2 linked regions of the Homo sapiens genome follow. The main gene of each other region encodes a partner of the protein of the gene in region 2 in a complex. Each region holds a gene or a part of one and is shown on either strand. Other genes may lie near its edges.

Region 1 (5,781 bases), on a different chromosome or scaffold from region 2:
CGCTGCTCAGGGTGTTCACTTTTTTATAGTCTTCAACAAAGTCTAGATTTTTTTAGAATGCACAATTAATAAGTAGAAGAATTAGGAGATAAAAAAGAACAGTTTTACTGGCTGGCAGGTAGCTGGCTCCAAGGCCGTGCTCCAGATCCACCATTTGTGGGGCGGACAGCACATGTGATGCCAGGATCTGGGGCTGGCCAAGGGAGCATATCCTCCAAGGGGCCCCACCTGCAAGCTCGGCCTGCTGGATGCCCTGGATCTCAAATCTCACCTGAGCCCACAGCCCTCACTCGGGCAAGACTGGCCTCGGCCACCCATGAAGCAGCTTTCAGGGTGGGGCTGCTTCAGCTCTTACCAGGACACTTATGGCTTCCAGAGACACCTTCCTGAGAGAAGGGCTTATGCTGATGTGTTCCTCCTGCCTTCCACTGCGTGGATGGCTCTACAAAGGGCCAGGGCGCAGGCAGTGTGGACAACACACTGACCCCGGTGCTGTGGGAGTGGGCACTGTTGGGAGGCAGCGTGTTCCAGGCAGGTGCAGAGGTGGGAGGCAGCATCTTCCCAGCGAGATGTCCCCAGGTGAGGGGCCTCATCGCCCACCCCCAGCGCTGTCCCTACAGGTGCAGCAGGAGCGGGACGAGCTCTATCGGAAGTTCACCGCAGCCATCCAGGAGGTGCAGCAGAAGACAGGGTTCAAGAACCTCGTGCTAGAACGCAAGCTGCAGGCTCTGAGCGCCGCTGTGGAGAAGAAGGAGGTGCAGTTCAACGAGGTCCTGGCTGCCTCTAACCTGGACCCTGCAGCCCTGACGCTGGTGTCCCGCAAGCTGGAGGTAGGCCCTAGACAGGCTCCTGACCCCAGTGGGCGGCCTCATCCCTGTGGCAAGAGTCTTCAGTTCTGTGCTGCTCCTCGGATAGGCACAGAGACCCCTCGGTCGGCCACTGAGGAGGGGCATTCATGGGTTTCCTGTGGCCAGTTTCGGGCCAGTTGGGAACTGTGGAAGGGCTGGGCAGGGGAACCAGATCAGGGCCCACTCTGCTATTGATGGGGAGCACAGGGCTGGAGGGGGCTGGTTGGGGCCAGCACAGAATGGGGACGGGCAGAGGGTTGGAGAGCCGCCAGGAGGCTGAGTCCACAGGTGGGGCTGGGAGGGGCCGAGGTGACTTGGTGTTTGCACATGGGGGAACGACGGGTCCCGGCCCAGTGGGCGGTGGTGCCTGTGGGACCCTGGTCATCTGGGATGGCCTGGCTCTCAGGGCCTGAGGTAGTGAGGCTGTATAGGAGGGGCCTCACCTGGGCCAGAGGCACTGTGGCCCCGGGACTGAAAACTCATCTTTGTTTGCTCAGCACTGGGCCCAGTGAGCACAGGCAGGTGAGGGAGTGAGGGTCCCACTGTTGGGAGGTGGGGGAGGCGTGTTTCCAGCTCCTGGCTGAGGGCTGCACCCAGCCTGCTGCTAAGCCACCGAAATGAGGGTGAAGAGAGCAGTCGTGGCCTGTGAGGGTCATTGCAGCTGCGCCCACGCGCCAGGGTGAGGATGGAGGATGGAGCTAAATGTGGGTCAACCCCTCCTTTCCTGGTCATTGTTACCTCGACTTCTAAGTGAGGAATCTTCTGGGGAAATGACAGAGGCCCCCGCAGGGACACTGTTTGCTGCTGGCCAGGTGTGAGGGGGCTGCTGTGTCAGTGGGCAGCAGGGACGGCTCTAAAGCCAGGCTGGGCCCAGCAGTGCCCCACAGGCAGGAGCCCAAGAAGTCCCTGCCTCGCCACGTGGTGAGACCCTTGCCCACATCTGGGCGGGGCCAGCGCTGCTGAAGACTACTTTTTTCTGTTACAAAAAAGTGGGATAGCCGGGCGCGGTGGCTCACGCCTGTAATCCCAGCACTTTGGGAGGCTGAGGTGGGCAGATCACGAGTTTGGGAGTTCAAGACCAGCCTGGCCAAGATGGTGAAACCCCGTCTCTACTAAAAATACAAAAATTAGCTGGGCTTGGTGGCGGGTGTAATCCCAGCTATTTGGGAGGCTGAGGCAGAGAATTCCTGGCACCTGGGAGGCGGAGGTTGCGGTGAGCCTAGATCGCGCCACTGCACTCCAGCCTGGGCAACGGGGCGAGACTCCATCTCAGAAAAAAAAGTGAGATAGTACATTCACAAGCCTCAAGAAATTTAAGCAATATGTAGGTGGTGTTTAGTGACCAGTCTCCACAGTGTGGCTGCACGCTGCCTGCCCTCACCTCATCTGCATTTCTTGTGGTCTGGACTGCTCTTTGAGTTTTTTCTTGAGACGGTGTCTTGCTCTGTCACCCAGACTGGAGTGCAGTGGCTCAATCTCGGCGCACTGCAACCTCCGTTTCCCAGGTTCAAGCAATTCTCATGCCTCAGCCTCCTGAGTAGCTGGGATTACACAGGTGTGAGCCACCGTGCCCGGCTACTTTTCGTATAGTAGAGACGGGGTTTCGCCACGTTGGCCAGGCTGGTCTCAAACTCCTGACCTCAAGTGATCTGCCCTCCTTGGCCTCCCACACTGCTGGGATCACAGGTGTGAGCGGCAGTGCCTGGCCTGGACTGTTGCTGGAGAGGCAGGTTGTGCAAGCTCCCAGTTCTCTGCTTCTTCCTTGTTTTCTCTCCACCCTTGGAGACCTTTTTCTGCTGACAACCCTGTGTGGATGGATGCATCCATCAAACCAGGCTGCTATTCGCTGGATCTCTCAGAACGCCCACTGGAGTCCCCAGGCCGCTCCCGTTGCCTCGGCCAAAAGATGAGTCTCAAACTCCCATCACCTCTCTCTCCTCAGGATGTTCTTGAGTCGAAGAACAGCACCATCAAGGACCTGCAGTATGAGCTGGCCCAGGTCTGTAAGGTACGGCTGTGCCCTGCCCTCCCTCAGGGGCACCCCCTCGGTGCCCAGACTGTTCTAAATGCAGACGGTCTCTGAGGACCCCACCTGTGCCCACTTCGTACCTCGTTTGACAAGGCAGCTGTCACTGTCCCCACGTGAGGGTGCAGTCATAGCCGAGAGCATCTGGATTCTGTGTGGTCTGGGGCAGTGCACTGCTGTCTAGGCCATGTCTCTGCTGGGATGGGTGTAGGGGGGGACCTGGACGCTTCCCTGGTCAGCCCCTTCCCCTGGGCAGGGAGTCAGAAGGTGCTGTGCCCACCGGGGAAGGAAACAGACGTCATTCAACAGGGGAAGGGAGGGCGTGAAGAACCTGAGTGGGAAACACCCAGCCAGGGCCCAGAGCCCTCCCAGACCACAGCTCTGCCCTGAGTGTCCCTGCCCTCTGCCTCCGTCTCGTCATTTGTGGAATAGGAATAGTGACAGCCTCTCCCTGTCGTGCTACCTGAGCCAACGCAGTGAAGGTGCTTGGAGCTGTGTCCCACACGGGAAATGACTGATAAGCCTTTGGCTTTATCCTTCTGCACCGTGATGCTCACGCTGCCCCTCCATGGAGCTGCACTCAGCTCTGGTGGTCCTGAGCGTGGGGACCCTCAGCTCCCTGACACTGCCCTGTCTCCACAGGCCCATAACGACCTGCTGCGCACGTATGAGGCAAAGCTGCTGGCCTTCGGGATCCCTCTGGACAACGTGGGCTTCAAGCCCTTGGAAACAGCTGTGATCGGACAGACACTGGGCCAGGGCCCCGCGGGACTGGTGGGCACCCCGACGTAGCTGCCCCCCTGGGGGGCCACAGCCCAGAGAACCAGCCTAGGAACACTCGGGATGACACCCCTTATCACACCAAGGACAGCAAGTTTTTTAGATTTTATCATCAGCAAATGAAAGCTTTTCACATGTTCTTGCCATCCTCTTTCCTGGCTCTGTGGAGGAGAACCACCTGCAGGACCCTCACCCATGGTGTCCCTGTCGCTCCCTTCCCTGGGTGCCGCACGTCCAGCCTGTGTCCAGGCCTACTCCCTGGTCTCACCTCCGACCACAGTCGGCGGCACCTTCTCAGAGTGCCCCGCACTCACCTGGGGGTTGGGGCAGTGCCGCGCTGTGCTGCCTGTCTTCGCGCCACTGTTGTCCCACCGAATGGACAGCTTTGCAGGTGCTGGCACTAACTTCATTGACACCTGAGTCACAGCTGCCCAGTGGGATTCTCCAGGGGGCCGGGACTTCCCTAGGAAGTGGTGAGCCAATGCTCCCTGATGAGCACAAAGCCCGCTCTGTTGAGGGCTGGGTGGGTGCAGCCAGCGTGCGGGAACGGGCAGGCAGCCTCCCGCTGCCAGTCTTCGCTCTAACTCCCTCGGTAGGTGATGTAGGACCAGGGGCACGTGGAACTTCTGGGCCTTGCTGGTGATGGTTAAAACAACCTGAGATGGAGAGGCCAGGAGAGAGTATAAGGGGATAGCAGCAAACCACCTATCTGGCCCCAACACACCTGAGAGAATTCAGCAGCCCAGACTGAGGGTCTGGGATGGGGTGAACCTTCCGCACCAGAGGGACACTCCACAGAAGCCACAGCCCAGTAAGTCAGGCGCTTCTGCGGCGGCTCCAGTGTGGGGTGAGGCAGTGAGGTTAGGCCCAGAGAGCTGGAGTTGGCTCAGATGAAAACCTCTGTCAACAAAGAGGGGATGAATCACCCTTGGCCCAGCCTCCCCACAAAGCCTGACCCTGGGCAGGTGAGTGACGGGTGTGTCCTCGTAGAGTCTATTGCTGCCTGGACACCTTTCTTTTGGGAGCTCAAAGCAAGTGAGCTCACCTACCTGCCACCGCCCAGGACCAGTCTGCCCACTGCCTAAATGATGCCCGGCCAGCAGGACCTGGCCTGCAGATCCCAGTGAGTCATGAGCCTCAGCCCCCTCCAGCCCACTGGGGCTCTCACCTCCACATGTGGGTAGAAGCTTTCCTGCCCCCTCTTCCTCCAGTAGCCCTCAGTGTCGAAGGTGAGCTTGTAGGTGCCTGCCTTCATCTGGTCCAGGACAGTGACCATCTGGGTCTGTGTAGCTGGGGAGAGGATGAGGCTGCAGAGATGGGGACCAGAAGCCCCCCACCCCAGCTTTCCTGGGTCTGCATCCCAGTGGGCCTCAGACACTGCCCTGCCACCTGTCAGACTTGGGTGAGCAGACACAGTGAGGCTGTTAGGTCCTGCAGTTCCAGAGCAGTCTAGGGACACCACTGCCCTGTCTTTAGGAAATCACAACACAGAGAAGCAAAAAGGGAAAAAGTCTCCCACAATTTATCCCATGAGCAAGAACCACTTTATAGCTGGCATATATTTTTCCAGATTTTCTCTATGCATAAGTATATTTGTTTAAAAACTTATAAAGTGGATTATACTATTTGTATTGTTTTATAACCTGTGGTTTTCACTTAAAATATTGTGTATGGCTGGCTGGGCGTGGTGGCTCACACCTGTAATCCCAGCACTTTGGGAGGCTGAGACAGGCGGATCATGAGGTCAGGGTATCGAGACCATCCTGGTTAACACGGTGAAACCCCATCTCTACCACAAAAAAATTAGCTGGGCGTGGTCACGGGCACCTGTAGTCCCAACTCGGGAGGCTGAGGCGGGAGAATGGCATGAACCCAGGAGGCGGAGGCTGTAGTGAGCCGAGATCGTGCCACTGCACTCCAGCCTGGGCGACAGAGCGAGACTCCATCTCAAAAAAAAAAAAAAAAAAAAAAAAAAAGTGTGTGGCTTTCTGGGTCAATAACTACCAAACCTTCACCCACAGAGTGGGCCTGTCCAACTCCACGGAGCGTCTGTGTTGTGTGCCCTGGTCCCTTATCAGGGTTCTGAATAACCGTGGCTTTGCCCATAGTCACTTCTGGAAAACCTCC
Region 2 (7,149 bases):
CCTAGTTGCATGCAGCTTTCTGCGATCAGCTCCGGGTGCTCTATGGAGCAGCTTCGTTTTGCATTTAGATCCTTCAGTGCAGTTGGAAATGCACAGTGTATGTAGACCCTTCAAAACTCAAGCCCTTGATGATCTCTAATCCCTTACCTATGCTCACTATCTAATCAGGGCCAGTGTGGCTCCCTCAACTGCAGAGGCTTTGATTTGTCTGGGTGAAACAGAACCTTTGGCAGGTGGGATAAGAGAGATTTTTCTGGCTTGGGAAGAAGCTCAATGTCTTTGAATCACAAAGCAATGCTCTCCACATGCTTGATTCCATTTTGAACATGAAAACAATGTATGATGCAGCCCTTAAGGTCCAATTACAGCCGTCAGAAGAGGCTGTTTTATACATAAATTCACTCATACTCAATGGAATCTGAAACTACTGCACCAGCTTTGCAAATCAAAGATGTCTGCTCAGCTCACCCTTTCTGAACCAGAGGAGTAGCAAACTTTTGGTCAATGAGCAAATTGGCTGTAGCCCTTTTGCAGGAGAGTTTCCTGCAGAAGATATGGCTGGCATTCTACCAACCCCAGAGTCTGAAGGGTTTCCAGGAAGTGACCCCAGAAGCACCGTGTGGATGCAAGATAAAGGCTCCTTTATTTCAAGGAGGAATAAGTAACAACTATGATCAGAAAACGACAAGCTATTTGTATTTGAAGCAGCTGTGACAGCCAGCCATTCAACTTATGGCCCTCTGTGGGGAAAGGCAACAAGGTAGGAGTGAGAGAGAGGAAGAAAGACCCTCACAATGGCCCCCACAACCCAGGAGGGCCTGAACCACAGAGAACCTGAAGAATCACTAATTGTATAGTTAGCGAAAAGGCTAATCCAAGAACAGAAAACCAAATAACGCATGTTCTCACTTATAAGTGGGAGCTAAATGATGACAACACATGGACAGATGGATGGGAACAACACACACTGGGGCCTGTCAGAGGGTGGAGGGTGGGAGGAGGGAGAGAATCAGGAAGAATAACTAATAGATACTGGGCTTAATACCTGGGTGATGGAATGATCTGTGCAGCAAAACACCATGGCACACGTTTACCTATGTCACAAACCTGTACATCTTGTACATGTACTCCTGAACCTAAAATAAAAGTTGGAAATAAATTTTTTAAAAAAATAAAGGGAACTTTTGATATATTTCTATCTGGAGCCCAAAACCTTCAATTCTAGAGAACTAGTAGAGAAAGTCTTAGTGGCCTTCAGAGCCCCAAATCACAGTATGAAATTCCTGGAAGGCCTTCTTTAGCAGTTGCTAGAAGCTTAAACTCGGACAGTCCCTACTGCTCAGGCATTCTAGGAGATCTGTGTTGATAAAAAATAAAACTCTTATCAGAGTTCTCCTCTCTAGCTCATGGAAAGGTTCAAGCCTTTCTGATGTGGAGCTGTTGACTTTTATTATCAGTATGAACAAATAATGTTATTTAACAATTATTATTTGCCACGTACTGTGCTAAATCCTATTTTACAGATATTGCCTCACAAATACACTTTATCATCAAAATGGATAAGGAAACTGGTTTAAACAGGTTAAATAATGTGCCCACAGCCACACAAATAAGGAGAGCCATACTTTGTACCTAGGTCTTAATCATACTGTGCTGCTCTTCGCCTTTATATTACATTCTCAAGCTTTTAAAAAGCTCTGACATTCAAGGGATGTGGTCAGTAAGGGTAGACACGTGCTCTGTTTTGCCTAATTTATGTCTGATGCACAATAAGAGAGGCTGTGGATTATGAGCAGTCCTTGGTGGTGGCTCCAACATTCCCTTTTTTTGCCTACTCAAGAGATTAGAAGGAAATGTGAGCTAAGGCACACAGTGTTACTACAGGGCTAACCCTGAATCCCTTTTAATTTATAAGAAACAAAAATCACTAACAAACTTCAGTACAGTGTTATTATTAACCATCTAATGTGAAATGTTACAACTATGACATATCATGTTTGAAAATCACTGTTCTATACTGATCCAAAGAAACCTCTCACCAGGATAAATGAGTAACCATTGCAGCAGATTGGTTCAATTCCCAAATCATTTCATACGGGGTCTCACAGTCACTTAGGCCAAAGCAGAATGGAATGCAGTCAAAGAATTCCATATGTGCTCTATGGAATTTAGAACACACAGTGGTTCCTAAGAATACATGTTTTTTTCAATATTTCCTAGCTCCCATGTGCTGATCACACTACAGCATCAAGCTATTAAGAGAGAAAGGGGAGGGGCAGGAGAGAGAGAGAGGTTTCTCCCAGAAATATAGTTTCTACATTTTTAACTTTCCTGATACGATTCAAAATACATGTGTAAGAGCTTCTGCACAGCAAAAGAAACTATCAACAGAGTAAAGATAATGGGAGAAAAATATTATCAAATTATGCATCCGACAAAGGTCTAATATCCAGAATCTAGAACTTAAACAAATCAACAAGCAAAAACCAAATAAGCCCATTAAAAAGTGGGCAAAAACATGAACGGACACCTCTCAAAAGAAGACATACAAGTGGCCAACAAAAATATGAAAAAATGCTCAACATCACTAATCATCAGAGAAATGCAAAATTACCATCACAATGAAGTATCATCTCGCACCAATCAGAATGGCTATTATTAAAAAGTCAAAAAATAAAAGATGCTGGTGAGGATGTGGAAAAAAGGGAATGCTTTTACACTGTGGTGGGAATGTAAATTAGGTCAGCCAAAATAGAAAGCAGTATAAAAACTTCTCAAAGAACTAAAATAGAATTACCATTTCATCCAGTAATCCCACTACTGGGTATCTACCCAAAGGAAAAGAAATAATTCTATCAAAAAGACACCTGCAGTTGTATGTTTATTGCAGCATCATTCACAATAGCAAAGTCATGGGATCAACCTAAGTGCCTGTCAGTGGTGGATTGGATAAAGAAAATGTGGTACATTCAGACCATGGGATGCTACACAGTCATAAAAAATAATGAAATCATGTCCTTTGCAGCAACATGGATGCGGCTGGAGGCCATTATCCTAAGTGAATTAACAGAGAAACAGAAAACCAAATACTGCATGTTCTCACTTAAAAGTAGGAGCTAACCACTTGGACATAAAGATGGAAACAATAAACACTGGGAACTCCAAATGTGGGGAGGCAGGGAGGATGGCGAGGGTTAACAAAGTACCTACTGGGCATTATGTTCACTATTTGGCTGATGGGTTCAATAGCAGCCCAAACCCCAGCATTATGTAATATACCCACATAACAAACCTGCACGTGTACACCCTGAATCTAAATTTTTTTTTAAAGGTGCGTGTGTGCAAACACACAGCTACATAGGATGCTATGATAAAGAACTCAGAAAAACCTTCTGGCAGCCACTTGCCGATCTCTTCTCTTGGCAAGGTCCTGGGTCTTAGGTTAGTCAGTCCGTGTGAGGATGCCAAAGGTGGTGAGGACAGCTAGTCACGGCTAAGGATTTTCTGAAGGGCAGGAAAGAAGTGGAATAGGGAATAGTCTATACTAGTATCCATAGCTCTCTAAAAATAATCCTAGATTTGCTCCAGGACAGATTCATATTTTCTGTTTTTCCCTAGGACCACCCTTGCTGTGAAAGCACTTCAGACTAAAACAGGCCCTAAAGACATACCAGGTGGAGGAAGCCTTAACCTCCCAGAACTTGAGTCTGGAAGGAGAGTGGGTCTGAGATCTGATCCTTTGCTCCCCTCCAGTCAGTAAGCATCACTTCCAATAGTCAGGGACCCACTGATGTTTGGTTTCACTAAAGCTGTCTGTGGGTGGACTGGAGAGCAGAGCTAGGGTAAGGGGGACAGGGACTAAGGAATGAGGACATTAAAGAAATGCATATACCAGTGGGCACTTCACCCATGGCTGGGGTTCAACATGCAGCTCATTTCGATTCTGTCCCATCACACTGCATTAAATGAGTAGTCTCCCTGTTCACTCACTGTTTTCCTTATCTTATATTAAGGAGTCAGCATTCTCACTTTCCTTTTTCTTGTTATTTTCTCAAACCCCCACTACTTGCTAATTGTTTTATGTCACAATTACCATCTAATTTACCCTGGCTTGTAGCTGACTGAGCAACCATAGGACTCAATATTTACACTTTCCCAGACTTATCATTAGTAGTACTTATCCTCTTACCAGTTATCTAGAGCCGTCAAAACTGTTGCTCTTCTGACATTAAGGTAAGATGTAACTTGGTGAATGAGGATTTGCAAATCTTTTACTCCCTAAAACAAGCATTTCCTTTTCCTATAGGTCAAGATCATTGTTGCCTCTAACTGTGCTACTCTTGTACTACAGTCAACATCAGTGGCATTGAATGATTATGAACAACTGTGAACTGCAGTGTGTGTCCAGAACTCTGGTGTTTGGGAGGCAGGGGGCAGGAGGGTGTTGGAAATAGGAACATAAGAATGCCCCTTCTAGACCAGCAATCCAGCAGAAGCCAAGAGGGTTAAAGGACTTCCCTTCTTGGTGTAAGCTGCTGAAATCTCTCGTTTGAGCTATTCATGATGAGTTTCAGGGAGATGCAAAGAAATGTAATAAACTCTTAAGTAACTTACTACCTTCTTAAACAAAAGGAAAATAACAAAGTTTAAAATTATAAATAATTAATGCCCTGAAGCTATGTAATAGAAAGAAATTAATTCTATGATCAACTTCCTGTAGATGTTTAGAGGAGGAGAAGACTGGGTTTGAGCCATTTCCAAGGAGGCTGGATTGGTTTGGAGTTTTGAAAAATGGATAATGTTTAGACTGATAGAGATGGGTGAAGGGTAATGATGGAGCCTTGCTGTTTGTTACATGAAACTGATGGTGCTAATGTTATATGCCTCAACATTTGGTATTATATTTCAGTAAGTCTTAAGGGGAAAAATGTTCAGAAAATGTGTTGAAAGATATGATAATCTCACCTTTATAGAATTGAAAAGGGAGAAATATCATTAGGAGAATAATGTGGGAAAAGCAAAAGATATAAACCCACTACTTTTGCATAGTAATGTTCTACTTTGAGGATATGTAAAGATTATATAAGAGGTTTAAAATGCAGGCTAGCACCTTAAAAAAAGATTTAAAAAATTAACAGAATGCAAAACATTATCTTTGACAATAAACTTACCATTTTCAAAACTGAGAATAAATATTTCTCTGAAGAGAATAAACTTGTTTGCCAAGTTTTAGTCCATAGGGATTGGTGGCTCCAAACTAGGAATTAGTATATGATAATTGCTTTTACTCAATTTGTTCTTTAAGTTTGTAGAAGTTTTGTGTGAGAGCCAATAATAAGCTAAAAAGCAATGTGCTTAGAGGCAGAATTAGGAATGCTTTGGTTACCTCCCTGTTAAGTTTGGTTACAATTATTTTAATACATCTAAAGTTTGATTTAACTGAAATAGCATTTTAAACTGTTATCTCTATGTTGTTGGTTTTTTTTCTTCCTATTTCATTGCCTTACCTGAACTCATATGGCCATTCAGCACAAACTTAACTCGAAGTGTATGGTAATGCCAGCTCCATATCAATGACTCAGTTTCCAGACTTTTGCAATTAATAACTCAAGGTAACATACGGCAAGAGTGGGGAAGGTAGTGCCTTCATGGGTAAACATCATAGTTACTCATTTCTAATCGTACAGAAGTGGTCAATTACTCATCTCCTCTTTAGTACTAATCTCGTGATTCAAACCAACTTTCTAGGAAAGGAAATTCTTCCTTCTGTCCTCAAAATGGCTTTGTTTTCAAGTTAGACCTACTTTTTTTCTGATGCATTCTTTACTTTCTTGTTTCCTGCTAAGAAAGACTATAACAGTATTTTTTAATACTGTGTTATAGTGTTGTGACACCTTTGAGTCACAAACCTTCTCATAAAAATGTGTATTATAGACAAAACTGCATGAACTTTCAGGGAGTTCATGGACCTCCCTGAAGTTCATCCATGTAGTCAAAAGGGATCTGTGAACTCTGGGTTAAGAGCTCCTGGCCTGGTGCATGGTCAGCCTTCACAGGTAGGCTGGTTAGGTTACTCCCTCATCAGAGAAACTAGAAATACCAAGGAAGGGGCTTACTTAAAGCAGTATAAATAAATAGAGGCCTCAGTGTTCCTCTTCCATGGCCATGTGTAGTTTCCTTACCCATTCACTGTATCTGTTAATTTCTGAACTGGCTGAATCAGAGTTACTGAGGCTTTGGGACCCTGTTTATTTGTACACTTACCCATATCCTCACTCTCAGCAAGGCAAGAGAGGTCTCATGTGAATTCAGATTGTGACAGTGAATTCCCTAACTCCAAATTTGGTTGAGTTTGAAAATTTTGCACTAGGGGTTACTTCTGCAACTAGCTAATGCTAAGCACTGTTATTACAGGAAGGCAGCTCAAAGAATGTCATCTAAAGTTCAGCAGCAGGAATACAACACTAATGACCCTCCACGTTGGTTTGGCTATGATAGGGAAGGAAACCCTGTTACAGAGCTTGACAACATAACATCATCTAAAGGAGCCTTAGAATTAACAGTGAAAAAGTCAACATACAGCAGTGAAGACCAAGCAGCGTGACCTTCAGCCTCAAGCAGGAAGAACAAAAAATCAAGAACTTGGCAAGTTTTCTCCATTTGTTGCAAGTATGTTTACTAGCTGAATCTCAATAACAATGTAAACAAGCAACAAACCATCTTCTGATTCTTATTCCAACTACAAATATTTCCAAACACATCAGTAGTTCTTCTGTCTAAATAATCATGATTTAAAAAAGAAGCCAGGCCAGGAGCGGTGGCTCACACCTGTAATCCTAGCACTTTGGTAGGCCAAGGCGGGTGGACCATAAGTCAGGAGTTCAAGACCAGCCTGGCCAACATGGTGAAACCCCATCTTTACTAAAAATACAAAAATTAGCCGGGTGTGGTGGTGGGCGCCTGTAATCCCAGCTACTCAGGAGGCTGAGGCAGGGGACTTGCTTGAACCTGAGAGGCGGAGGTTGCAGTGAGCCTAGATCACGTCACTGCATTCCAGCCTCGGCGACAGAGCAAGACTCCGTCTCAAAAAAAAAAAAAAAAAAAAGAAGCCAAATCAAGTACTGACTACACAAAATTTCTGCCTAAATT

Evidence for each region. The genes of interacting proteins can lie anywhere in the genome.
Region 1: FBXL13 (region 2) and DRC4 share a complex: the UniProt entries of both Homo sapiens proteins name them as parts of the nexin-dynein regulatory complex.

The regions. Positions count from the first base shown.
Region 1 is NC_000016.10:90,039,680-90,045,460, forward strand, and holds the end of DRC4 (dynein regulatory complex subunit 4), read left to right. Parts: intron 1-81; exon of another isoform or gene 82-620; coding exon 621-830; intron 831-2,790; coding exon 2,791-2,856; intron 2,857-3,222; exon of another isoform or gene 3,223-3,516; coding exon 3,517-3,666; 3' UTR 3,667-5,281; downstream 5,282-5,781. UniProt on the Homo sapiens protein: Component of the nexin-dynein regulatory complex (N-DRC), a key regulator of ciliary/flagellar motility which maintains the alignment and integrity of the distal axoneme and regulates microtubule sliding in motile axonemes.
Region 2 is NC_000007.14:102,812,797-102,819,945, reverse strand, and holds part of FBXL13 (F-box and leucine-rich repeat protein 13), read left to right. Parts: intron 1-3,618; coding exon of another isoform or gene 3,619-3,760; exon of another isoform or gene 3,761-4,295; intron 4,296-4,306; coding exon of another isoform or gene 4,307-4,370; exon of another isoform or gene 4,371-5,529; coding exon of another isoform or gene 5,530-5,557; exon of another isoform or gene 5,558-6,414; coding exon 6,415-6,604; 3' UTR 6,605-7,149. UniProt on the Homo sapiens protein: Substrate-recognition component of the SCF (SKP1-CUL1-F-box protein)-type E3 ubiquitin ligase complex.